Linked DNA regions of Homo sapiens. The protein of the gene in region 3 interacts with the protein of the main gene of each other region in a biochemical or structural test. Each region holds a gene or a part of one and is shown on either strand. Other genes may lie near its edges.

What was found.
Region 1: the proteins of PRKD1 (region 3) and PPP1R14A form a complex in vitro, tested with the Homo sapiens proteins (one study listed by BioGRID).
Region 2: of the proteins of PRKD1 (region 3) and ARFIP1, one has a biochemical effect on the other in vitro, tested with the Homo sapiens proteins (one study listed by IntAct).

What each region holds. Positions count from the first base shown.
Region 1 is NC_000019.10:38,250,686-38,253,446, reverse strand, and holds the end of PPP1R14A (protein phosphatase 1 regulatory subunit 14A), read left to right. Parts: intron 1-472; coding exon 473-553; intron 554-1,108; coding exon 1,109-1,141; intron 1,142-2,000; coding exon 2,001-2,129; 3' UTR 2,130-2,210; downstream 2,211-2,761. UniProt on the Homo sapiens protein: Inhibitor of PPP1CA. Has over 1000-fold higher inhibitory activity when phosphorylated, creating a molecular switch for regulating the phosphorylation status of PPP1CA substrates and smooth muscle contraction.
Region 2 is NC_000004.12:152,908,882-152,912,908, reverse strand, and holds the end of ARFIP1 (arfaptin-1), read right to left. Parts: intron 2,846-4,027; coding exon 2,690-2,845; 3' UTR 552-2,689; downstream 1-551. UniProt on the Homo sapiens protein: Plays a role in controlling biogenesis of secretory granules at the trans-Golgi network. Mechanistically, binds ARF-GTP at the neck of a growing secretory granule precursor and forms a protective scaffold.
Region 3 is NC_000014.9:29,917,774-29,924,896, forward strand, and holds part of PRKD1 (serine/threonine-protein kinase D1), read right to left. Parts: intron 1-7,123.

The DNA of each region.
Region 1 (2,761 bases), on a different chromosome or scaffold from region 3:
CCCTTCCTGTCCCCTCCCTTCCTGTCCCCTGGGGGAAGGGGCCGCCCCAGCTGGCTGCTGGCTGCCAGCCTCTCCTCCCCTGCACCTAGTGCTAAGACTTTTCCTTGAAAGGGCAGAAGCCAGCTCCTCTCCCGAATCCCAGAATCTGACATTCCAGGACTCCACTAGGCCTGTTTTCCTCTGTGGGAACTAGAGCCAAGGCGAGAGACCCGTGCCAGCCCCGAGGCTCCCGGGGCCCATGGGCCCAGGCATCGGGCTGGTACAGGGCCCCGGGGCTCTCTCAGCCCATCTGTCACCCCTCCCCCCCAACACCCAGATGTCCCGTCTTGGCAGTGCTGTCCCGGACTGCCACATTAATGCTCCAGAACCCGCCAGCTGGGCCCTGGGGCCGGTGGGGCTCCTGCAGAGCCCTGGACAAAGGCGAGGGAGGGAGGGAAGGGGATCCTAAGCACCCCTCCCTCCCTGGCCCTAGGAGGCAGACATGCCCGATGAGATCAACATTGATGAATTGTTGGAGTTAGAGAGTGAAGAGGAGAGAAGCCGGAAAATCCAGGTAGGTGGGGGGACGTGTCCCCCAGCCTCCCACTTTGCACCTCCCTAAAAATAATAGCAATAGTTCACGTGTTTACTGAGTGCTCACTAGATGCCGGGCACTGGTGTGATGGCTTTACATGTATTCACTCACTTAACCCTCACAAAACCCTCCGAAGCAGGCGCTAGTGTGAGCTCCATTTTCCCCATGAGGAAAATGAGGCCCAGAGAGGTTGAATCCCTTGCCCAGTGTCACACAGCTCAGAAGGAGCAGAGCTGGGCATCGAACCCAGGCAGTTTGGCAGCCATGTCTTTGCTTATGGCTTATACCTTTTTAGAGGAGGGAAGTGCTGTGTGACCCTCTCGCCCTCTCTGGATCTAGTAACTCACCCCTGCCCTGAGTCGATCCACATGCCCCTTGGGCTCTGTTCCTCTCTTGAAGCTTGGTGGGCAGTCCACCCTGGAGTCTGACTTCCATTTGTCTTGCTGCTGGGGCCTTTTGGGAAAGGGAAGGGGCTGGAGGGGAGTAGGTGTTAGTCATTTACTGTTTTGTTTTGTTCTTGGTTGGGGGTTTTAGGGACTCCTGAAGTCATGTGGGAAACCTGTCGAGGTGAGTTTTCTCTCCCTCATTCTCTCCCTGTTCTGGCCCCAAGTACTCTGATGGGGGAGGGGGAAGAAGCTGGCAGAAGGGTCTCTGGGGAACACCACCCGGCCCCACCACCCCCGGCCCCAACCTGCCCTCCGCAGCTCTTTCTGGTCTCCAGGGGTGTCTTTTGTCCTCCTACTTGTCTCTCTCCCTCTCTCCCCCATCTGCTGAGGGGGCTCCATTCTGTCCTCCCCCATCTGCCCTGTTTTTGCCTCTCCTGTGCCTGTCCTTTGGCCACCAGCCTTCGGGCTCAGTCTCCCTCTGTCCTCCCCTGTCACTGCCTCCGCCACCCCGGGCTCCCTTCCCCACCTCTGGGGGCCCTCCATCCTCCCAGGCCCTGAAGCTGAGCGGCCCAACCCCTCCCACTTCCTTCCCTGCTTTAAAAGGGAAAACTATTCATGTTTCTCCAACTAGCTCTAGGGACAAACGTCATTGCATTTCTGTTCGCCCTGGATCTATCTCTGGGGACCTGTCTCCACATGTCTCTGTTTCTTTCTCTGTCCTTATGTCTCTCTCTGTCTCTATCTCTACATGTCTCTCTGTTTCTGTGTCTGTTTCTCCCCCTCCCCCACTCCGTATCTGTCTCCTTGGATCTCTATCTCTCTTCCTAGCTCTTTCTCTCCATCCCTCCCATCGCCCTTTCCCCATCTCTGTCTTTCTCCCGGCTCACTTTTCTCTCTATGTCTATAGCCTCCGCCCCTAACTCCCCCCACCCCACAATCAGAGAACAGGAGGAGGCGCCCAGGTCAGGGACTGGGCTGGACAGGGGCAGAGGGTGCCCCCGCACTGTTCCCATGTTCTCAGCTCCCCCACCCTGTCTCAGGACTTCATCCAGGAGCTGCTGGCAAAGCTTCAAGGCCTCCACAGGCAGCCCGGCCTCCGCCAGCCAAGCCCCTCCCACGACGGCAGCCTCAGCCCCCTCCAGGACCGGGCCCGGACTGCTCACCCCTGACCCTCTTGCACTCTCCCTGCCCCCCGGACGCCGCCCAGCTTGCTTGTGTATAAGTTGTATTTAATGGTTCTGTAACAATAACACTGTGTGGCTGTTTTTCCTCCCCCCGGGTTACCATGGGCTTCCCCGAGCTCCCCCCACAACCTCCCTCTCTCCTCCTGTGGCCTCTGCTCATGTCCCTGTCCCAGCACTGCAGCTGGGCCTGCCAGATGGAGAATCACTCCTCCCGGGCCAGAAAGCATGAGAACGGGCCCTGCTGAGCCCACGCCCTTGGGATTTATATCCTAGACCTTGCCTTCCCTTGAACTCCCCACCCCACCCCCATCCCCAGTCCCAGCAAGCAGGGCCCCTATATGCAGGCTCCTGCAGGAATCTGGGTCAAGGGGCATGCTCATGACCAAAGGTGACCGATATTGACTCAGTACAGGTGATCACACAGCAAACAAATCATTCAGCCACTCCATGAAATCTGCGCTGTGCTTATAATGGCCCTTGGTACTGAGGCTGCAAAGATGAGAGGAAGATGGTCTCTGGCATCAAGGTGCTCACACACTATGGGGGGAGAAGGGCCTGAGTGTGAGAATCAGAACAAAGTGTGCTGAATGGCTCAAGATACCTGGGAGCTTGGCAGA
Region 2 (4,027 bases), on a different chromosome or scaffold from region 3:
GATGCTTCTTAAAGCCTAGATTTCAGCTAAATTGCTTTTGCAAACCCAGATAGTTCCTGGACCCTAAGATTTGGAAGCTTTGGGATGAAAAGTTTAATTTCACAGACCAGTTCCTCAGTGCATTATTTTTTCTAGAATAACAACTTCTATTTTAATGACAGAAAAGCCAGCCATTTTCATCCATTCCCTGCTCTCACACCCAGCATCCCCAAACTCTCCAGTTGGTGATTGTTCAGCCTTTATCTTCCTGTTTTTCTCTTTCATTATTTCATTTTATATATACAGCACTGGCTTAAAAAATATACTAAACAGGTACATGTGTATGCTCTTAGAGGTGTAAATTGGCACAGTCTTTCTTGAAAGCAAACAGGCAATATATTACAAAGTTTTAGAAGTATGTATATACTTTTGAGGGCCCATTTTCACTTCTAGGACTATAACCTAAGGGAGTAAGTAAGTAAAAGTGCAAAGATGTAAATGTATATTAAAGGATATTCAAAATAGAGCTTGTATATTAAAATCCAAAACTAAAATATCCAACTTCAGAGGTGTTGAGTGGTTCCATGCAGTATTTATTCACTTGGGAAGGTACTTATCTTCTATTACTTGAAATTTTCTTCTAATTCTTTTCTATAATGAACATAAATTACATTCCTAACAAAGTAAATGTACCATTGGCTAAATATATTGATTTACTTTTTTCTTTTGGTCATGTGCCCACTATCAGAATCATGGATATTTTAAATTTATTCTGAAAAAAATTAATCCATGAAACTATTTAGCTCCTTAGCTACAGTAACTGTTATTGAAATGTGGTTAAGAATGGACATGTTCAGCTCTCAAAAGAGATTCACATTGAAAAAAAATAGCTTACTGAGCTAAAACAATTATAAGTGACAGAAGTACCTTTTTTTTTAAGGTTCAGAAAACGCAAATTATGTGTCTTCAGAATTTCCAAATAGTTACTTCTTAAACTATGAAGGTCCAGAGAAACGATTTACTGCAGCAAACACGTTTAATAAGAATACAAAATTCACACTAGAGGCACATTCTGGGGAATGTAAATGAACTATCACAAGTAGTAATTCTGCTGGAAGAATAAAATAAGGCTCTCTGAGTACAAATATACAGGAAGGAATGATTTAAAATAGGTATGATTTACAATCACATTACATTGTATTAAGCACTCAAAACAGGCATATTAATTAAAAAGCCAGCTAAAAGGCATTTGAACATATATAACAAATCTTACAGTCCACAAAGTTCATGTATAACGGTAATTTTAAGTACTTCATTTCAACACAGAAGAAATGAACAGGTGAGGGATGCCTCTCAAAATATTAATTTATGTCTATGACAAAAACTAAAAGAGCTTTACATTGAAAATGGATTACACTACTGATAGAACCATGTAGTGGACAGGGCAACCACATTAAAACAAAACCAACAGTGCCGAGCAACTAAAACAGTACTGGCCTTTCCAATCCTCTTTCTTCCTGGTACCACCACACTGTCCCAAATTACCTCTTCATTACCCAAATCAAAGAATCTTTCTGTTTTCCCAATCCTCAAAAGGAATGAAGAAAAACCAAAGAGCAAACTCAAAAGATGATTTTTACCATAAACCTCAAATGTGGCTTAACAAGTACAAAGAAACCCAACATTCATACATAGTGCTCCATTCCATGGAAGGAATAGACACATCAAACATTATCCAACAGGGGTTTCTTTATGGATTTTGTACATTGGTTGAACAAGAATTACTGTATCTGAGAAGGCACATATCTGTGATTTAAGGCTTAAACGGTATTGTTACATATGGAAGTCAATAAAAGCTGTCTATGTATTCACTTCTATCAAAATGGAACTGACCCAAAAACTAGTTTTCTAAGTACAGATTTCTACTCCAGAAACCATTAAGAATTTCCATTCCCACGTCCACCTGTCAAAAAAAAAAATTCTCTTAAGCAGGTTTTGTTATGAACCAAAAGAAATTGCAAATGTAACTGTCCAATGACTTCGGGTGAAGCAAATTCATAAGCTTAAAAGCCTCACAGAAATGACAGTGTGATTTCTGTGTCTTTAAAAAAAAGTCTAAATAAAATTACAGTGGTACAGATTCATTTTTAAAAAGGTATTTGCCACAACTCCACAAGCTAATCATTCATTAGAGCTGCTGCCTCTGTGTGGACGCTGCAGGAACACCATATAACTTTACTCTGCAAAATAGTTTCTTTTTTCTTTAATACATGAAAATGAATCTCTTAAAGATGTTTAATATATTCACATATAAAATATCTGATGTTGATACAAATCATGTAAACCTCCCTTTGGAAAAGTTACAATCGGCCCTCATTTCCAGGACCAAAAACCTTGAATTTTTATCTTGTCAGTGCAAATCTCTATTAGATGTTTTCAAACTACAGAAATAGCCATCAACCCTCACAATACAAAAGGATTTCTCAAAAAGGAAAATTATTGTGTTCAGATTATAGAAACTATGTTTACATTAAAACCACCCTTAACAGTTCAATTGTTAAAGTATGAAAAAGGGAAAAATTAAAGCTGTTTGTGCAAGAATCACTATAATGCTTGTCACCCCTCCCACTTCCCCCAACTCTGCTTAATTCTTGTTAGGTTGGTTTAGAAATATAACAACGCGACTTTCTTTTTATTTTCCGCTGTGATTTTACTGTTCTTCAAGCCAAGATGGGGCATCCACTCCAGGGGTTTTCAATTTGATATGGAACTGTTTAAGTGTCTGTTCAAGCTGCTTCTGATTCCCAGCAAAGTAAGCGGCAATGGCATTGTGGAAAAGGACCAGCTGATTGTGCAATACTTTAACCTGTGGACAGGGCAGAGTTACAAGACCAAGCATTAACACCAATAACAATAAAATAGAGAGTGATTTATTACATTCCTTAATTAAATAGTGTATCTCTCTTGAAGAAAAGCTGGCTTAATAATGACCAAGTATTTCACACATACCAAGTGTACACTGCCTTGCAGGGTCACTGAACCTTTGATGACTTTTTAATTACCCTAAAGAGAATAGGTCAGTTTTAAGATGCCCAAATATATACCCTATTAACCATTTTCAAACATTATTGAGAGGATTAATTAAAAATATCATTAAATCCTCCTCAAACTAAGTACATTCAAAATCATGTGAGATATCAAAAAGGGAAAATTATATATAATTGCTACACAATGTATGAATAGTAAATATGGACATCATTAAATCTAAGCTTTATGTAAGCCAAGTAGGCTGGATACTTTTAAATATTGACTTTCTTTGTAAAGAATCAAGCAAGTAGCAAGTGTTGCTCAGAAAATCAATTTACTTAACGCTCATATGACTCTCAATTATTTTCAACTGCTTATTACTTCTGCTGATATCAAGAGTATATTTTAACCAAGTCATACTACCTCTATAAGTCTTTCTTAAAGAAATAAACAATGCATCAAAAAGATTTATAAACTGTTTCCTGAGGTTGTTTTTCTTTTGTTTTGTTTTGTTTTTTGAGACAGAGTCTTGCTCTGTCACCCAGGCTGTTATGCAGTGGCACAATCTTGGCTCACTGCAACCTCTGCCTCCAGGGTTCAAGTGATTCTCATGTCTTGGCCTCCCGAGTAGCTGGGATTACAAGTGTGCACCACCATGCCCAGCTAATTTTTGTATTTTTGGTAGAGATGGGGTTTCACCATGTTGGCCAGGCTGGTCTCAAACTCCTGACCTCAGGTGATCTGCCTGCCTCAGCCTCCCAAAGTGCTGGGATTACAGGCGTAAGCCACCAAGCCCGGACATCTGAGGTCTTATTTACAACTGCAAAATGTTAAATAAGAATTCTGATTCCCATCCAATATGACATTCATTAAAATTGAACTTTAATAATAAATGATGTAAAAATATTTGAAACACGATGCTAAATGAAAAAACAGGATAGAAAATTTGTTTCACTATATTACACACACACACACACACACACACACACACACACACACACACACACACACTTCTCTCTAG
Region 3 (7,123 bases):
GTTCTTCCAATGCCTGGTTGAAAATAAATAATGAAACAAAATAAAACATAACGCAATAGGATCCTTACTTGGACTGATGAAAAAAATGTGCTATGAACTGAAGAGTATGATTATAGCAAATCTACATACCTGTAGATAATTTTTTAAGTAAAAAATAGATTTTTTTAACTTTTATTTTAGTTTCTGGGGTACATGTACGGTTTTGTTACATAGGTAAACTTGTGTCATGGGGGGGCTGTACAGATTATTTTGTCACCCAGGTACTAAGCCTAGTACCCCAAAATTGATTTTTTCAAAGCAGGAAATATATTGCCTGATTGTAGATTTTAAATGTTCTCACCACACACACAAGAAAAGATAAGTCTGTGAGATGATGGACATGTTAATTAGCTTGATTTAATCACTGCACAATGTATACATGTACCAAAACATTATATATCATAGTATATATAATTTTTATTAGTAAATTATACCTTAATAATGCTGGGGAGGGAGAAAGAATCTTGTAGGATCACCTGCAGTGTTACAAAGGGAACTCAACGTGAGACAGGTAATTCAAACAGTCAGAACTATGAAAATATCAAATAGTAATTTACAAAAATGTAAAAGAAAAACACTTATTATGACCCCAATGACACCAAAAATATGTACCATATGTACAATTTGATTAGGAAGCTTCTGAATATATTTTCAGATGGTGCTAACCATTAGATCTCAATGTTCACCTGCTCACAGTAGCTGAAATACTTGCCGTAACACAAGTGGTGACCCTTTAATCTAATGTTCCACTTTTCTGGCCTTTTCAATTTACCACTTGACTCTTTATTTCTAGTTTTTAACTGCCCCTTCAGTCCTCTCCTCCCCAATCTCTCTGACTGTACAAGACATTGTGTGAAATAATGTCAATACTTTTGCAAAAGCCTGTATAACATGCCACTCCTAACCAGAATTGCTATGGAATCAAACAAACTGAAAAATAAAAATGTTCATGATTACTGTGGATATTTACATAACTGCAAATAAGCAATCTCTTTAATCTTTTCACCCTACACTGAGCAATTGCTCAGGTTGAGAGAATCACCTAACTGTAAGAACACTGAGTGTAGGAAAAAATCAAACTAATTATCAACAACACCATATATTATGCACATTCATACTTTTCATTCATATTTTCATTACTAAATTAATACTTTTCAACTGTTTTATAATATATGCGGGGAAAAGTGGCTGCTGACAATTAAGGAGAGAAGCATTCAGAAATTCCTGAAATTGTGCCTAAAAACAAGCAATACATTCACTAGTTCCTCATCAATCAGTGGTTTAGTCAGAATAGATGCCAATGAACTAGTGAAGGGTGTATATTTTTTTCCTTTTCACCAAAATAAGTTGAACAAAATTCCTGTGTGATTGCATATTTTAAAATCTAAGTTTCATGTTTGCCAACATTGCTAAGCTACTATATCAATTGTCTGGCTTAAGCCAAATAAAACCTTTCATAACTTTGGAAGAAACTTCTACACAGGAAACTGTAGATTTAGACAGCCGAAATTTGTCTGAATATGCATTGTTTTTGTACCAGTTCTTAACTATTTAAATTATATGATATTCCATAACAGCCATAGTGGCCATATAATTGAACACTCTGTATATTTAATGATCTGTTTTTCTAGATGAGACCAGAAAAAGTAAGAAACAGAACAACGTGAATTTCTCTGCTGCCAAATAACTTCAAGTGGTGCTATCACAACTGGTTTTTAATGGCACAAAAATATTTGGTTGACAGTATTAAAAGAATTCCTGTGGGAAATATCTCATATTCTTATAGATTAAAAAATGTTTTGAATAGTTGTAAGGAAAATCACCATTTTCTTTGTATCTAAATTCTATCAATAGAAAGAGGGAAATGAGGCTGAGCGCAGTGGCTCATACCTATAATCCTAGCACTTTGGAAGGCCGAAGCAGGTGGGTCATCACTTGAGCACAGGAGTTCAAGACCATCCTGGCAACATGGCAAAACTCTGTCTCTACTAAAAATACAGAAAATCATCCAGGCGTGGTGGCACATATCTGTAGTCTCAGCTACTCGGGAGGCTGAGGTGGGAGAATCACCTGAGCTTGGGAAGTTGAGGCTGCAGTGAGCTCAGACGGTGCCACTGCACTCCAGCCTGAGTGACTAAAGTGAGACCCTGAGAAAGAGAGAGAGAGAGAGAGAAAGAGAGGAAGGAAGGTAGGAAGGAAGGAGGGAAGGAAGGAAGGAAGGAAGGAAGGAAGGAAGGAAGGAAGGAAGGAAGGAAAGAAGGAAGGAAGGAAGGAGAAAAGAAAAGAGAAAAGGAAGAAAGGGGAGAAAGAAAAGAAAAGAGAGAAGAAAAGAAAAGGAAGGAAGGAAACAAGGAAGGAAGGAAGCACTTGTCTTGTTTTGTTCCAACATATTCCAACAATAAGGAAAGATTTAAGAAATTGAAGTCTCATTTTCAAAATCACTCTAAAGTAATGCTGGGGAAATTAAAAGATGAGTAGTATCTTTTATTATTAAAAAACACCCTATATTTTTACCTCTATTGCCACATTTGGGTTTAGATTTTTCACCTTAAACAAGGTGATGGCGCAAGGTCAGAGGTCAAAGATTACCCTGATACATAAATCAAAGCAAACAAATATAAAAACAAAGCAAGGAAGGAAACTTCATGTTACCATCAACACCTATAAGACTGCATTCTACCAAGTTCTAACAGTCTGAGTCCAGCCCTGCAATATTGATCATTATACTAGTTATTTGGTATAGTTTGAGAGCTTATTCAATGATTCCAGTCTAATACACACACACACACACACACACACACACACACACACACAAAGTTTCATATAATTATCCATTACACTCTTCTTTAAAAGATTTATAAATAATTAAAGATTGTGGTTTTCTAAAGGTTTTATAATGGGGCATGGACTTCCATGACAGATAAGTGGTAGGTAGTGGGAATATCTAAAAAAGACTTGTGATTGGTTTTGCCAAACTGATAACTCAATTGTTTCCCAGTAAATTTGCCTTCTCATCTCAAAATGACATTTCTGCATATGCACAACCAATTATGTTATATTAGCTATCATCAGATGGAACAATTTAGCAAACAACCTCTAGATGTTAGCATGACAGCAAATTGCAATCTCCCTACGTCATTTCCAAGCACCTTCCTTCTCATGTATCAAGCGATGATCTGCAAATAAGCTTTAAATTTTGGTCTTGAGAACCAGAATTTTGAATCATTGTGTTCCCAAATGTTGCACCTTTATCTATTTTATTTCCTTTTTAAAAAATGAAGTGAAATACCATTGACATTGCACTTGTAATTGAAAAGGAGTTAAATCATCTTTCTGTCAAAAATAATAAAAAGCAATGAAAATATGCTTTACTTTTATCAGCAAATGTGTCTTTCATTTAGTAATAATTAGATTAGTCCTTAAAGAATGCTGAGAGTTTGAGATTTGAGAAACTGTTTCAAAACATAACTACTTCTAAGATTTGCCCTGATACAGAGGGCAGGAAAAAGATGTCACCTGGGCCTTACAGCCATATTGCTTTTTTTAATATTATAATTTTAATTATATATTGATATAAGAATAAGATAATAAATATAAATTTCTTTTGTTAATAAGACAGTATGCTAGTCTATAGAGCTTTAAGCTTTAGTAAACAACAGCATTTATTATGCACGTATTTACAAAGCAGTATGTATGTTACATATATTGTCTTTAAATCTCAAAGTAATCTTAGATAAGTCACAAATATACATTCATTGACTTACAAATGTTCTGCATTCTCTAGTAAGGTCAGTAACAGTTATTCATGAATAAATTAGTGAAGACTTATATACAATCATCTCACAAAAAAAGGTAATAATCATTAGAAAATAAAGTTATAAATCTCCCATAAAAGCTATGATAGGAATCTGGTGAAAATAAACAGCACAGTCATGAAGTATGGTCTTCTGGGGCAAGTTTTTAAACCTTATTCCAGTAACCCCCACCACCACCACCACCATACACAGTGTACTTTTACTCTTTCAGATTGATCTCAATTCTGAATCTAAAGGCCCAAATGAATTCATGTATTTATCAAATGAGCCAATCATCCAACTCTTCCCAGCCCATGGACTACAAGGCTTAATGGTTTTAACTTCACAGTCTCACAGGATATTCTTGTGAAAACTGTCAAATAGTACATACCTGTTTTAAAAAGGTTTATAAGTCTGTGAATTGATAGAAAAATATAAAGCAGAGTTTCTCTTGGGAGGCCAAGGCGGGCGGATTACGAGGTCAGGAGATCGAGACCATCCTGGATAACACGGTGAAACCCCATCTCTACTAAAAATACAAAAAAATAGCAGTGCATGGTGGCAGGCGCCTGTAGTCCCAGCTACTTGGAAGGCTGAGGCAGGAGAATGCTGTGAACCCAGGAGGCAGAGTTTGCAGTGAGCCGAGATTGCACCACTGCACTCCAGCCTGGGCAACAGAGCGAGACTCCATCTCAAAAAAAAAAAAAAAGAAAAAGTAAAGAAAAAAAGAAAAATGTAAAGCAGAGTTTCTCTTTGGGATTGTGAGATATGTGATGAGGCCTCATTTTTTGCAGTCTATAACACAAAATATAAAACAATACTTCACATCTGGAGGCTATACAAGGATAAGGAAGCTCTTAAAAATATATTTAAAAAATAGTTAAACATAATCTACTACATATAAATTCCACATCTGTAATACATAATATACAGTTCCAAAATATAATCCTGTTACATTATTAAACTTGAAAAGAAATTTAAATTTTAAAAGTACAGGCAGGGCACAGTGGCTCATGCCTGCAATCCCAGCACTTTGGAAGGCTGAGGTGGGAGGATTGCTTGAGGCCAGGAAATCAATAACAGCCTGGGCAACACAGTGAGACATTGTCTGTATAAAAAAATTATAAAAATTAGTCAGATGTGGTGGCACACACTTGTAGTCCCAAACACTTGGGACGCTGTGGCAGGAGGATCACATTAGCCAAGACTTTGAGGCTGCAGTGAGCTATGATTATGTACTGTACTTGTAGTCTGGGCCTTATCTCAAAAAATAAAATAATAAAAATAAAATTAGAGTACTAAAATTATATTACTTAAGAATCACTTAATAGGCCAGGCCCAGTGGCTCACACCCAGTGGGATTCCTTAAATCCCAGCACTTTGGGAGGCCGAGGTAGGAGGACCTCTTGATCCCAGGAGTTCCAGACCAGCCTGGGCAATATGGCAAAATACCATCTCTACAAAAAATTTAAAAATTAGCCAGGCATGGTCACCCATACCTGTAGACCCAGCTACTCAAGGGGCTGAGGTGAGAGGATCACTTAAGCCTGGAGGCCAAGACTGCAGTGAGCTGTAATTGTGCTACTGCACTCCAGCCTGGGCAAGAGAGTGAGATTCTGTCAAAAAAAAAAAAAAAAAAACACACAGTAAAATGACAAATTCTATACTTCATCATTAAATCAGAAATCAGTAGACATATAATATAGCCAATTATAAAATTGGAATAAAAATATATACACCTAAGCCCCAAAGACCATCATTAGTTTAAAAGGAGTTTGTTGGTCCAGGTGAGTTGGATTGATCAAGCACCTAATTACTTTCGGCTTTCTCAATCTATGTGGAATGTGTGGAGTATCTAAAATTAGTAATAAAGAGAAAAATGACATCACAACTATTAAGAAAACAATGTATAATACAATTAAAGTGAAACAATTACAAGCAAAGTAATGCTACTTTCAAACCAAGGCACTAACCTTACTTCTTTAGTGAGCTATCTACTTAAAATCTCACTGTTAAATTTCTTTAGCCAAAAGATGATTCTGAAAAGTGAAACTATATGCCAGGAGTCTTATAAATGCTATTACTCCATTTAAGTACATTTAAGAGTAAAATATCAGTTGCCTTTCTAATAAGGTAATAACCAAAATGAACAATCATATTAATGGCATCAAGCATCCCTAAAGAGTAACACAGCTCATTTGAGGAAAAAAAAAAAAAAAAAAAAAGTATGTGTGTGTGTTTGTGTGTGTGGTAGATAAGTAGATGATGTACTATGAAACCAAACTAGCTCTTCCTCTGGAATTTTTTTCCTTGCTTTAAAACAATTCCTCCTCAGTCTACATATTCAAGGTTTCTTTGACAGTAGAAAGTAACAGTGTTTCAAAGTGAAGTCAATGATTGTTATTATTTTTTACCCTCCTGAAAACAATAACCATGTACACTAACAGAATACATATCTTTATATACAACCAGGCTTCAACGTCACACACTTGCAAACTAAATAAACAAACATAATGTAAATAAAACCCTGGATCAATACTTTCTAAAAAGAAAGAATAACATATTATATAGCCATACATTGTTACATACAAAAAAGCAAGACTAGATTTTTCACCTAAACTAGAAGATGAAAGAAATAATTCTTTACTTATATAAGTCAGTATATACTTAGGGTACGTTATCTTAAAATAAGTATTTTTTGTTGAATTACCATCACAATGTTTCAAGTACAATCGTGTCTGCTACATAATTAGAGAACAACTATACTCTAAATTCTAAATAATAACAATAATAATTTACAGGTGAGTTTCTCAGGGAAACTTATGCAGCCTTGTACACCTCAGTTGCTCATCCCAAAGGAAATGTCCTGTGATGTTACTGAAACTGTCAGCTAATATTTCCAATGCTCGTATGATCTATGTTAGTACTTAGGGAGCTCCTGAACAAAGTGAATGAAAAACTTCTTAACACATTTAAAACAACAGATGTGGAAGACTCAGAAAGATCAGGAGAACCTTCTGCTGTAAGTTCCACACGACTTCAGCCCACATAGTAAATTGTAAATGATTTCAAACCCTCTGCTCTCTCCTGAAACATCCAATCCCCAAACTCCTGTCATCCTTCCTCATAGCTGACGTCCTCATAAGGTACTTCCAAAAAAAAACTGAAATAAAAGACAAAAGAACTCCCTCCCACTTCCTTAACTCCACACTGACACTCTGCCATTCCTACTGTCACAACACACAGAGATCCTGTATCCTGTGATGGACCTTCAGCTCTCTTAATTTTGT